Linked DNA regions of Homo sapiens: region 1 is linked to region 2. The links come from fine-mapping of genetic effects on gene expression. A gene starts in region 2. The other region holds a variant in brackets. All regions are shown on one strand. Distances are between the middles of the regions.

Region 1 (5,383 bases), 45 kb after region 2:
AGAAGTGTTATGGAAAAAATGAATAGGGCATGGTAAAGGGATAGAGAATAGAAAAGGTAGGGTTGGGAGAGGGTGATATTTTACAAGGGTCATCAGGAAGGGCGTCTTTGAAAAGATTTGAAAGATCTGGAGAGTATAGAACCTGAATTAGAGTAAGAGTGAGAAAATGAAAAAGAAAAATGTCTCCTCTGTGGTTAAAAAACACCCTAATGTTAATGATAAATCTACACAAAACAGGCCGGGCACAGTGGCTCACATCTGTAATCCCAGCACTTTGGAAGGCTGAGGTGGGTGGATCATGAGGTCAGGAGATCGAGAGCATCCTGGCCAACATAGTGAAACCCCATCTCTACTAAAATACAAAATAAAAACAAAAATAAATTAGCCGAGCGTGGTGGCAGGCACCTGTAGTCTCAGCTACTCGGGAGGCTGAGGCAGGGAAATTGCTTGAACCCGGGAGGCGGGGGTTGCGGTGAGCCGAGATCGCACCACTGCACTCCAGCCTGAGTGACAGAGTGAGACTCTGTCTCAAAAAAAAAAAAAAAAAAAAAAAACTACACAAAACAAAACCTGTCTATGATACTTGAATACATACAATGTCTGACTGCAAAAACAGAACTGTGGCTTTTGATACTTGGGCCCAGATAAGGTGCTGCTGTAAAATGAAAAGCTGTTGAGAAAAGCCAGAAGAGGGTGTCTGATCTCGACCTCAGAGAAGAATGAAAGCCTCTGGCCCTTCCTCTTTCTGTCTCTCATTGGCATTGCAGCATTGGGATCACAATGAAAAACAGATTTTGCCATTATCAGAACCGTCCCATTCTTGCACATTGTGCTCTCTTTTGTCAATGTGATCTTCCCATAAGAACAGATCCAGTCATATGAGGAGAAGGGGCCGGCTACAGTTTTACAGTCAGAATGAAAGCAGCAGTACCTATATCAAGAGTAGCTGCTGTGCAGGCTCAGGGGCTCTGTGAACACAGTGCTCACATTGTAGATGCATGGTAAATTCAGCGCTGGCTCCCAACCCTAAGAAACACTCCCAGTGATGTGCTTCATAGTCACTCTGGACCCTTGGAAAGAGCACTGGATGCACAGGCAGAGGAACAGGGTTCAATTGTCACTACCGCCATTCAGTACTTATCGGCCTTGGACAACCATTACAAGCTTCTGCTCCTTACTAGTGAGAATAATTATGCTTCCTTCAGAAGGCACCAAATAAATGTTTGTGGGAGAATGATAACATATTAGATATTATTATTCTTTGACAGAATATTTTTAAATCCTTAAATAAAATTTGAATGATTGCATCTTTGGGGACATGGATTTTGAAATCTTAAAAAAGACCTAGACGCAACATTCTGCTAGGAATAAAAATGGTGGTAGTCTAGTAATCACTACTTGTGATTAACTATAGTTAAATTGGTGCCTCTCAAACACTTTCACCTTACAGAAGAGGAGAGGGGAACTGAAGCCTAGGGATCAAAGCAGCTCCCAAATTAGATACATTTTGAACTCTTATACTTTATCTTCAAAGTTGATGCTTAATTTTCATTCTACTTCATATATTTAATACTTAATATGAAAATAATGCTTTAAATGACACTCCAGAAAGATGTACTTAGTTGATACGACCAGGCACACACTTCACATAATAATACCTGTGTTAATTTTTTTTTTTTGAGGCGGAGTCTTGCTCTGTCACCCAGGCTGGAGTGCAATGTCACGATCTCAGCTCACTGCAACGTCTGCCTCCCAGGTTCAAGCGATTCTCCTGCCTCTGCCTCCCAAGTAGCTGGGAATACAGGCATCCACCACCACACCGGGCCAATTTTCGTATTTTCAGTAGAGACGGGGTTTCGTCATGTTGGCCAGACTGGTCTCGAACTCGTGACCTCAGGTGATCCACCCGCCTCGGCCTCCCAAAGTGTTGGGATTACAGGCGTGAGCCACTGTGCCTGGCCTAATTTTTTATTGCTATTGTAGCAAATTGCCACAAACATAACAGCTTAAAACAACTCAGATTTATCATCTTACAATTCTGGAAGTCAGAAGTTCGAAATGGGTCTCACTAGTCTAAAACTGGCAAGGCTGCTTTCCTAGTGGAGGCTCTAGGGAGGATTCATTCCTTTGCATTTTCCAGCTTTCAGAGGTGCCCTCATGTCTTGACTTGTGGCCATTTTCCTCTGTCTTCAAAGCCAGTAACAGCCAGTCAGATCCTTCTCCTGCTGCCATCTTTCTGGTTCTCTCCCTTCTGGCTCCCTACTACTTATGAGGACCCTGTCAATTACAGTGGTCTTACTTAGACCATCTAGGATAATCTCCCCACCCCAAAGTTATTTGATCAGCTGCCTTAATTCCATCTGCAAACTTAATTCCCTCTTGCCATGTAACAATATATTCACAGGTCCAGGGAGACATGTGGACGTCCTGTGGGGGCATTATCCTCCTACCACAGTATCAGTCCCTGGAGGAGAAATAGCCACCGGGGCCAGTTGCGCTGCAGGGTAAGGATCTCTGGGCTGGGCTGCTGCCTGAGCCTGCAGTGCTGTCACCTCTTGGTATTAGACAGCCACTGCCTTTCCAACGTGTGCATTTCCAACCTCTGTGAGCCTCTTCAGCGCACCTATCAGTCAAATTTATCTTTGTATCCCTACCACTTGATAGAGTTTCTGACATAATGAAGGCAGATGAGTGAATGAATTAATGAATGAATGCTACAGTAATGCAGGCTTGAACCAAGAAAGAACCTGGGATGAACCAGCCTCCCAGGTCCACAATTCTCCAGGCCTGA[G/A]GCAAGAAAGGACAATAACCGCAGGCATAACTTTTCAAATCTCTGTTGGAGGAACCCAAATTCTATTTTGAAAACCTCCTCTAAAGTTTAATTCAACAAAAGTAAAACAAAGGAAAATGGCATTGAGTCAACCAAGAGAGTAAAACTGACTGTAGATTGATTTTAACTAGTAACCCCACAAATGAGGCTAAACTAAATTGTGAGATGAAGATGACAAAGTACTTATAAAACGGCAACTTATACTGATAAAAATCTGGTGTCCTAAAAGACAGTTCTCCTTAGATGACTATTCTTGCCCAAGGAAGAGCCAATATACAGACTTCTTGGCATGGCTGTGAGGCTTAATGATTTCCCCTTCTGCAGAGATTGTACCTCCCAGTATACAGAGATAGGTTCCCTATAACCATGTTATACCTCCAGACCTGGCCCGGCCCTCGAATACCTGACCTGGTCACACTAATTGGATTCACTTCTTGGGGATCCACTTAATTGCTTCTCTAGAGAGAAGGTCCACCAACTCAATTTCTGAACTACATGAAGTAGACTATTGTTTCCTGCCTTTGACATGAAACCTGGTTTCAGAAAGGCTGAGCGGAGGTACACTTCTGAGACGATCAGAGATGAATCAAGACAGACACATCAATTGACTGAAAGCCTCAGACTTGCCATGATTACTAAGCAGATTCCTTGTTGTCTCTTGGTTGTTCAACTTGCCCTTAAATTCTGGGAGGGTATATTGTTAATATCCTTTTAAAAAATTCTGCTCCTGGGCAGGGCGCGGTGGCCCATGCCTGTAATCCCAGCACTTTGGGAGGCCGAGGCATACGGATCACAAGGTCAGGAGATGGAGACCATCCTGGCTAACACGGTGAAACCCCGTCTTTACTAAAAAAAATACAAAAATTAGCCAGGCGTGGTGGCATGCGTCTGTAGTCCCAGCTACTTGGGAGGCTGAAGCAGGAGAATCCCTTTAACCCGGGAGGCGGAGGTTGCAGTGAGCCGAGATCGTGCCACTGCACTCCAGCCTGGGCAACAGAGTGAGACCCCATCACAAAAAAAAAAAAAAATTCTGCTCCTGTTCCCTGTTCTTGTACCCTACTCACTTAAAAACAAAATCAAAAACAAGACCAAAAAAACCCAGCTAGCCAGAGCTGGTTTCTGTCATTTCCAATCAAAAGAAACTTATCAGCCGGGCGCGGTGGCTCATGCCTGTAATCCCAGCACTTTTGGAGGCCGAGGGGGCGGATCATGAGGTCAGGAGATCAAGACCATCCTGGCCAACATGATGAAACCCCGTCTCTACTACAAATACAAAAATTAGCCGGGCATGGTGGCGCATGCCTGTAATCCCAGCTACTCGGGAGGCTGAGACAGGAGAATCGCTTGAACCAGGGAGTCAGAGGTTGCAGTGAGCCGAGATGGCGCCACTGTACTCCAGCCTGGCAACAGAGTGAGACTCTGTCTCAAAACAAACAAACAAACAAACAAACAAACAAACTTATCTACTGTCGCTACCACAGACTCTTAATACTTTGCCTCCAAGGTCCAAGTTAGTGCCTCAGCTCGGGAAGAAAGGGACCCTGGGTTACTGAGATTCAGACCAAATGAACTCCAGGACTCAGCTGGGAGATTTAGAAAAAGGCAACAGGAGGCAGGGGTAGCAGAGCAAGAAGAATGAGGAAGACCAGTAACCACAGGCCTTGGAAACTTGGCTATAAGTTTCACTTCAGTTTCTGAACTACGTAAAGGTGACTATTGTTTCCTGCCTTTGACATGAAACCTGGTTTCAGCCATGCTTAGCGGAGGTATGTTTTTGAGATGATCAGAGCTGGACCAAGGCAGGCATTTCCATTTACTTTGACTGAATGGTAACTTACAGTTATGTGTAAGAGTTACATATATAACTGTATGCAATAATATGAAATTGCATTGAAGGACCCTTTATCTTGTATTCCAGCAGGAACTCAGAAAGAGAGTAAGAACAGTCTCAATTCTTAGGCATTGGTTTGGTATCTGAAATAGAGTGTAGCACAGGGTACACAAAACTCCTAAAGAAAAACTTTTGTTTAGAGTATTTATTTTATGCAGTGAGGTCAGTGCTTATTCATCAGGTACCCCAGCTAGCCTGTAAGGTGTTTGAAGGCAAGAATAATATCTGATTTATCTTTCTATGTTATCAGTGGCTCACAGGGCCATTTCACTCAAAACATTTTGTTGAATTAAATTAAAATCAGATCATGTCCATCCGTGTTTCATTACTGCCCTCAGGTTCAGAAAATAAGCTCTGCAACTGGCATAATGAGTTCCTCTCTCCCCTCCTTCCAATGAGAAGTAGATTTCTTGGGGTTGGTGGGAGAGAATAGGGTTATTCAAGATCTTTTTCCTTCCTTCTTTGCCACCTGCTCTGCAAATGGACTTTAAGCCTTGTTCATTTACATGTGAAGGGGTTTTAATATTTAATTTCCAGTCTCATAGGGTGAAGTGCACTGAACTAGGAGAGACATACCAGTTAGTCAGTGTAGGAGAAAATTCTGTTCAAATATCCAAGTCAAGTCACTATTTTTGGAGTGCTCACTTGATTCTACCACTTAT
Region 2 (5,383 bases):
GATGTCTTGTAACTGCATAGCAGATGACACCTGGCATGGCAAGTCTCATTCACTTCAGCACAACACTCTGTACATTTCAGTCTGATATTCTACTTTGCCATTTAAGGACACCATTAAAATCATAGAGATTTTCAGTGACATTGGAGTATTGTAATTATTACTTTCAAAAAATTATTTTTAATAGGATGATTAAACCAATGAGAAGAAACACACATAAATGATATTTTGCAGTTTATCTGTATTAAGAAATGCTTCTTGCCAATTTCTAGTTTTAGTTTTTGGATTGCTACATAAGACTTTCTTTCCATTTACTTTATGTGTTTTTAAAAGCTGCAGGTAATTTTTAAGGTTTGATGGAATTATAATGGAAGCCTTGTATAAGTTAAATGAAATTGGTAAAGGAGAGCTTACTTTGTCTATAATGCATTCAGGATTAAAAATTAGATTTCAAAATGAAATGTCTGATTTGTAAAATATTTAATGTTATATCAGACTTACATAAAATTTTCTGTGAGAACTCAAATGCATTTGATTTTTAATGAATGTTCTGAATGAAATATGAATTTTTGTCTTTCAGTCTCTGTAGTTTATCTCAATATATTAATAAAAAGGTCTGTTCTCACTGTAAAATGTTTGTTTTTATCATGTTTTATACTCAATATGGCCACTCTTTCATTCATTCAACTATTCAACAAGTATGTCAATGCTTGCTATATCCCAGGCAGTGAGCTGGGTGCTGGGAATTAATCACTGAATAAGAAAGACAAAAACCTTAAAGAGTTTACATCTAGCAAAGAAAATAAATATCAAGTAAATAATTATAATTATGATAAATTCTACAAAGAAAATTACAGGGTACAATGAAAGCATTTATCTAGAAGACCTAAACTATTCAGTGAGGGTCAGGGAAGGCTTCTCTGAGAGTGAGTTTAAGCCAAAATGCAAAAGATGAGATTAGTAGGATTAAGGTATGCTAGAGAAATATCTCAGGCAGAACGTGCTAAGTTGGTAAAGTGATAAAAATCTTTATGGAAGTGAAAACAAACTTGTATGATCATAGCATAAGGAATCCAGGGTAGGTGAGAGAATTAAGATAGGGGCCAGATCCCCATAAGAATGATATATAAACCATGATGCTGATATTGAACTTTATCCTAAGTCAATAAACTTGATTTTCAAGGAAGGAGTTAAATGATGTGATTTGGGTCTTTAGAACATCATTTTTGTTGCTGTGTGGAGACTGGAGGGCAAAAGAGAATGTAAGAAGAATAGGAGGTTGTTGTCAAAAGAGAGATGATCATGGCTTGGAGTAGGGTAGGAATATAGATAGGTGAATAGTTTTCAAAGATAGGAGGTAGAATCAACAGAACTCTGATTAGATTTGTGACATATGGAAGCAGCAATTGAAAACCAGGCTAAAGTTTTCTGAAAATTTGGCTATGAAAGGGAGTAGAGGAAAAACAGTGTGGTAGCTGAAAGAGGATGCGATTTCTAAAGAAGCTTTTCTTTTGAGGGTCTCGCTCTGTCACACAAGCTGGAGTTCAGTGGGGCGATCACCACTCGATGCAGCCTCAAACCCTGGGCTCAAGGGATCCTCCTGCCTCAGCCTCCCGAGTACCTGGTGCACGCCACGTTCGGATAATTCTTAATTATTATTATTATTTGTAGAGATGGGGTCCTATCTTGCCAGGCTGCTGTGGAACTCCTGGGCTCAAAGGATCGTCCCGCCTCGGACTCCCAAAGTGCTGCGACTACAGGCGTCAGCCACCGCACCCGGAAAGCCTTTTATTTTTTTCAATTATTATTTATTACATGAGACCTTACTAATTTTTAAAAATTCTGATGTAAAAGGGAACATAGAAGGTGCCCGTAATCAGTGTCTGCATGTTAAAAGTAGACGCTTGAAGTGCTCCAGAAAACCCATGGCTCCTCCCCATTCAATCTAGGTAAGGCCTTCAGTAAAGAGCACCCATGGGGAAGTCACAAGAGCCTAGGAAACAGGTCAGAAACCTGTGGACCTGGTACTTCCAATCACAGGCAATCTGGTGCTTGCTCTTCAGCTCATCACACCATCCCCTCAAATTTCTTCATCTACAAGAAAAGGTTTTAAGATAACAGACCCTGCAAAACTAATGACATTTATACACCCTCTCTGCACAAGAATGTCTTGTAACACATAACCTTGCTTGCATTTTCTGGGTTCCTTAGGGTCCAGCGATCTCGTACAAATCTACCCCACAGCTGACTTCCTTCGGCCCGTGACACAAGGCGCAGGCGCAAGACGCGGCCCGCGGTGGGCGGGGGAGGGGCGGGGCGCGTGCGGGGCGGGGGGGAGGGGAGGGGCGCGGCCGCCGGACGCGCCCTCGCAGCTTCCGCCGGGCCCCTCCGGAAATCCCGTATCGTAGGGCGACGGCGGCTTAGAAAGTGCTTCCTGGAGCGCAGACGAGGTCATGAATCATGTGACGGTGGCTTGAGGAGGAACCTGTCTTTAAAGCTGTCCCTGAAGTGACAGCGGAGAGAACCAGGCAGCCCAGAAACCCCAGGTAACTGGCGCTACTTTGCCTGGTTTTGAGGCCTAGTCCCGCAGGTGGCGCGGGTGGTGAGATTAAACAGAAGGAGAGGACCCTCTCTTCTTTTCTTTGGGCCTAGCTCTTTGGGGTGGAGGGGCAGGGATGGGGTGGGCTGAGGTAAGGTGTGCCAGCTGAGTACCTGTGGGGGTGCTGGGGCACTCCGACTCCCACTGGGCTCGCTGGGCCAAGCCCTAGAACCGCGGGGGTTTTACCTGGTTCTGACCAGGGCTGATCTCGCGTATTAAGTTGTGGGTGGGGAGGACGAGGAAGCCAAAGAGGGAAGAGTCACCGGGAGTTTCTCTTCCAGGCGTGGAGATTGATCCTGCGAGAGAAGGGGGTTCATCATGGCGGATGTGAGTGACACCCCTACATAAGAGGAAGGGGAGAGTGGGGAATTTTGAGGGGCATACTGAGCGGGGAGAGGTAGAACTTCCCAAACAGAAATTTGTTTTGATCCTCCCAGCCCCACCCATCCCAGTTAATTATTTTCTCTGATATCTGAAGTGGGAGACTAATATGAATGAATTTGCAGGATCCTGAGTTTCTGCCTCGAATGGGGGTGTAGGACACTAAGGTGCTTGAGACTGAGAAAATTAGGTTCTCCCTACTCCCCAGTCCAGCTGGGGCATAAGAGAGGCTCTGTATATTTACCATTTGAAATTCTGAATGATGGTTTGCTGCTTTTCCTGTCAGAATTTGGTCAGTAGGACATGTACCCACAATACTTTTTTCCAGTAAGTGATAACAATATCTCATTTGGTTTATTGTAGCAATTTACGATGATTTCTAACCCATGCCTCTTTAGAAACATGGTAACGTGTGTGTGTGTGTGTGTAGGAGGATAAAATGATCAGTCGGGTTTGGAGAATAGTAAGTGCTGGATGCTCAAAACAAGAGATACCTGATTAATCCATGTGAGGTCAAAATTGATACCTAAATTGTCAGTGAAATTCCTGGGATAAGAGAGTGTAATGAGACAAAATAAGATAGTCTTCTGGCCAATGCGGTTGCTTAGTCTGTAATCTCAGCACTTTGGGAGGCCGAGATGGAAGGATCACTTGAGGCCGGGAGTTCAAGATCAGCCTGGGCAACATAGCAAGACCCCGTTCTACAAAAAGAAATTTAAAAATCAGCCAGGCGCATTGATACCTCTGTAGTCACAGCTATGCTGGAAGTGAGGCGAGACGATTGCTTGAGCCCAGAAGTTGGAAGTTGCAGTGAGCCCCAGCTTAGAAAAATAAAATAGTCTTCTACTTCTTTAGTCTTAACTGTGTTTCGTGTTAAACACTTGACACACATTGTCATTTATTTTATATTCTGTAACACTGGGCTGGGCGCGGTGGCTCACGTCTGTAATCCCAGCACTTTGGGAGGCCAAGGCGGGTGGATCACCTGAGGTCAGGAGTTCGAGACCAGCCTGGCCAACATGGTAAAACGTTGTCTTTTCTAAAAATACAAAAAATTAGCTGGGCATGGTGGCAGGTGCTTGTAATCCCAGCTACTCGGGAGGTTGAGGCAGGAGAATCGTTTGAACCTGGGAGGCAGAGGTCGCAGTGAGCCGAGATCGCGCCATTGCACTCCAGCCTGGACAACAAGAGCGAAACTCCGTCTCAAAAAAAAAAAAAAATGTTGCCTCACATAGTCATATAGAATTTATTTTAGGTCCTTAAACAAAATATTTTAAAAATTACGTTATAATAATATGCCTTACACTGTTTCATTATTTGTTGAGTAGGTGAGTTCAACAAATAATGAAACAATGGAAGGCATATTTTTATAATGTGATAGTCACGTGAGACAACAGTCTTACAGAGGTCATATCACCTTACCCAAGACCATTAAGATGATGGTGGAAAGTCTATCTTTGAACATGGAAAGGTGTTTATAACGTCTTCTCAAGTGAACACAATAGCAACAGGATGTAAAACACTAGTATGAAAATTATGATGTAATTTTATGGCTAAAATGTGTTTCCCATTTCTAGGTATGCTAATCCATGCATCTTCTCAATAAACTTTTAACAACACTTTTATGATGTAGGTTCTATATTAGCCCTATTCAACAAATAATGAAATAAGCTTAGCGAAAAAAGGTTGGTTAACTTACTCCAAGTTGCGTGACTAGTAAACATCCAAATCAGACAGAGAAAGATAAAACACAGCAAGAAAGGTTATGAATGATAACTGAAGTTCCTTAAAATTTGGATAGGACAGGATCTAGAAAACAGTGGAAGGCCTATTATTACAACATTATTTTTTAATGCTCTCTTTCAGGACCTAAAGCGATTCTTGTATAAAAAGTTACCAAGGTAAGAAATTTTTAATTTGTTATTGAATAAATTCTATATGCCATATGTTAATTTTATGAAGCATTTTGTCTGTATTTTCCATGTTGTGAAGTATCTCTGAGATTTCCTTTAATATGAATATTTTTTGCCAGCCTCACGTCCTCTGGAAAATTTTCGTCACAACCGCTTTCCTCATTTATGTCAATAAGTTTGCCTTCACTGAGTTCTCTGTGTATCTAGAGCGATAGTGTCAGCATTCCCTTGGTCATCTGTTTCTTCTATAATTCTTTACTTTCTATTTGAAATTCAGCATTTCTATTTGAAATTTCAGCATTATTACTTTTCATTTCTTTGCTGTATTTCGTCTTTGTTGGCCAGTTTCCTCTTTTTATTATCTCTTTTTCTAAATGTCACATACTTTATCATTGGGAGACAAGGAGGTACAAAACTACATGCTTTGCTATCTCTGCATGAGCTGCATAACAGATGCACAGTGACCAACCATCAACATACTTTGAAAGAAATG

Direction of the effects. Alleles are on the strand shown, and positions count from the first base shown. SD is a standard deviation of normalised expression in the study named.
As copies of A replace G in region 1, the expression in esophagus muscle of the gene that starts at base 2,451 in region 2 goes down (small effect, 0.37 SD a copy in GTEx).

Evidence for each region. PIP is the estimated chance that this variant, and not a neighbour inherited with it, causes the effect.
Region 1: its variant is the best candidate, but not a certain one, in a credible set for the expression of LAMTOR3 in esophagus muscle (GTEx, PIP 0.70).

Annotation. Positions count from the first base shown.
Region 1 is chr4:99,846,706-99,852,088 of GRCh38, reverse strand. All of the region lies in intron 3 of DAPP1 (dual adaptor of phosphotyrosine and 3-phosphoinositides 1), which reads right to left. Among named protein-coding and RNA genes, the nearest start is that of DAPP1, 33 kb to the right of the region's middle. The variant G/A (reference allele first, on the strand shown) is at 2,792.
Region 2 is chr4:99,891,495-99,896,877 of GRCh38, reverse strand. LAMTOR3 (late endosomal/lysosomal adaptor, MAPK and MTOR activator 3) reads left to right here and starts at 2,451. Exons shown (of 7, transcript NM_021970.4): 1 at 2,451-2,543; 2 at 2,878-2,923; 3 at 4,844-4,878. The coding sequence starts at 2,915. It overlaps DNAJB14 (DnaJ heat shock protein family (Hsp40) member B14), which reads left to right. Exons shown (of 8, transcript NM_001031723.4): 8 at 1-630. RefSeq lists a silencer at 2,263-2,352.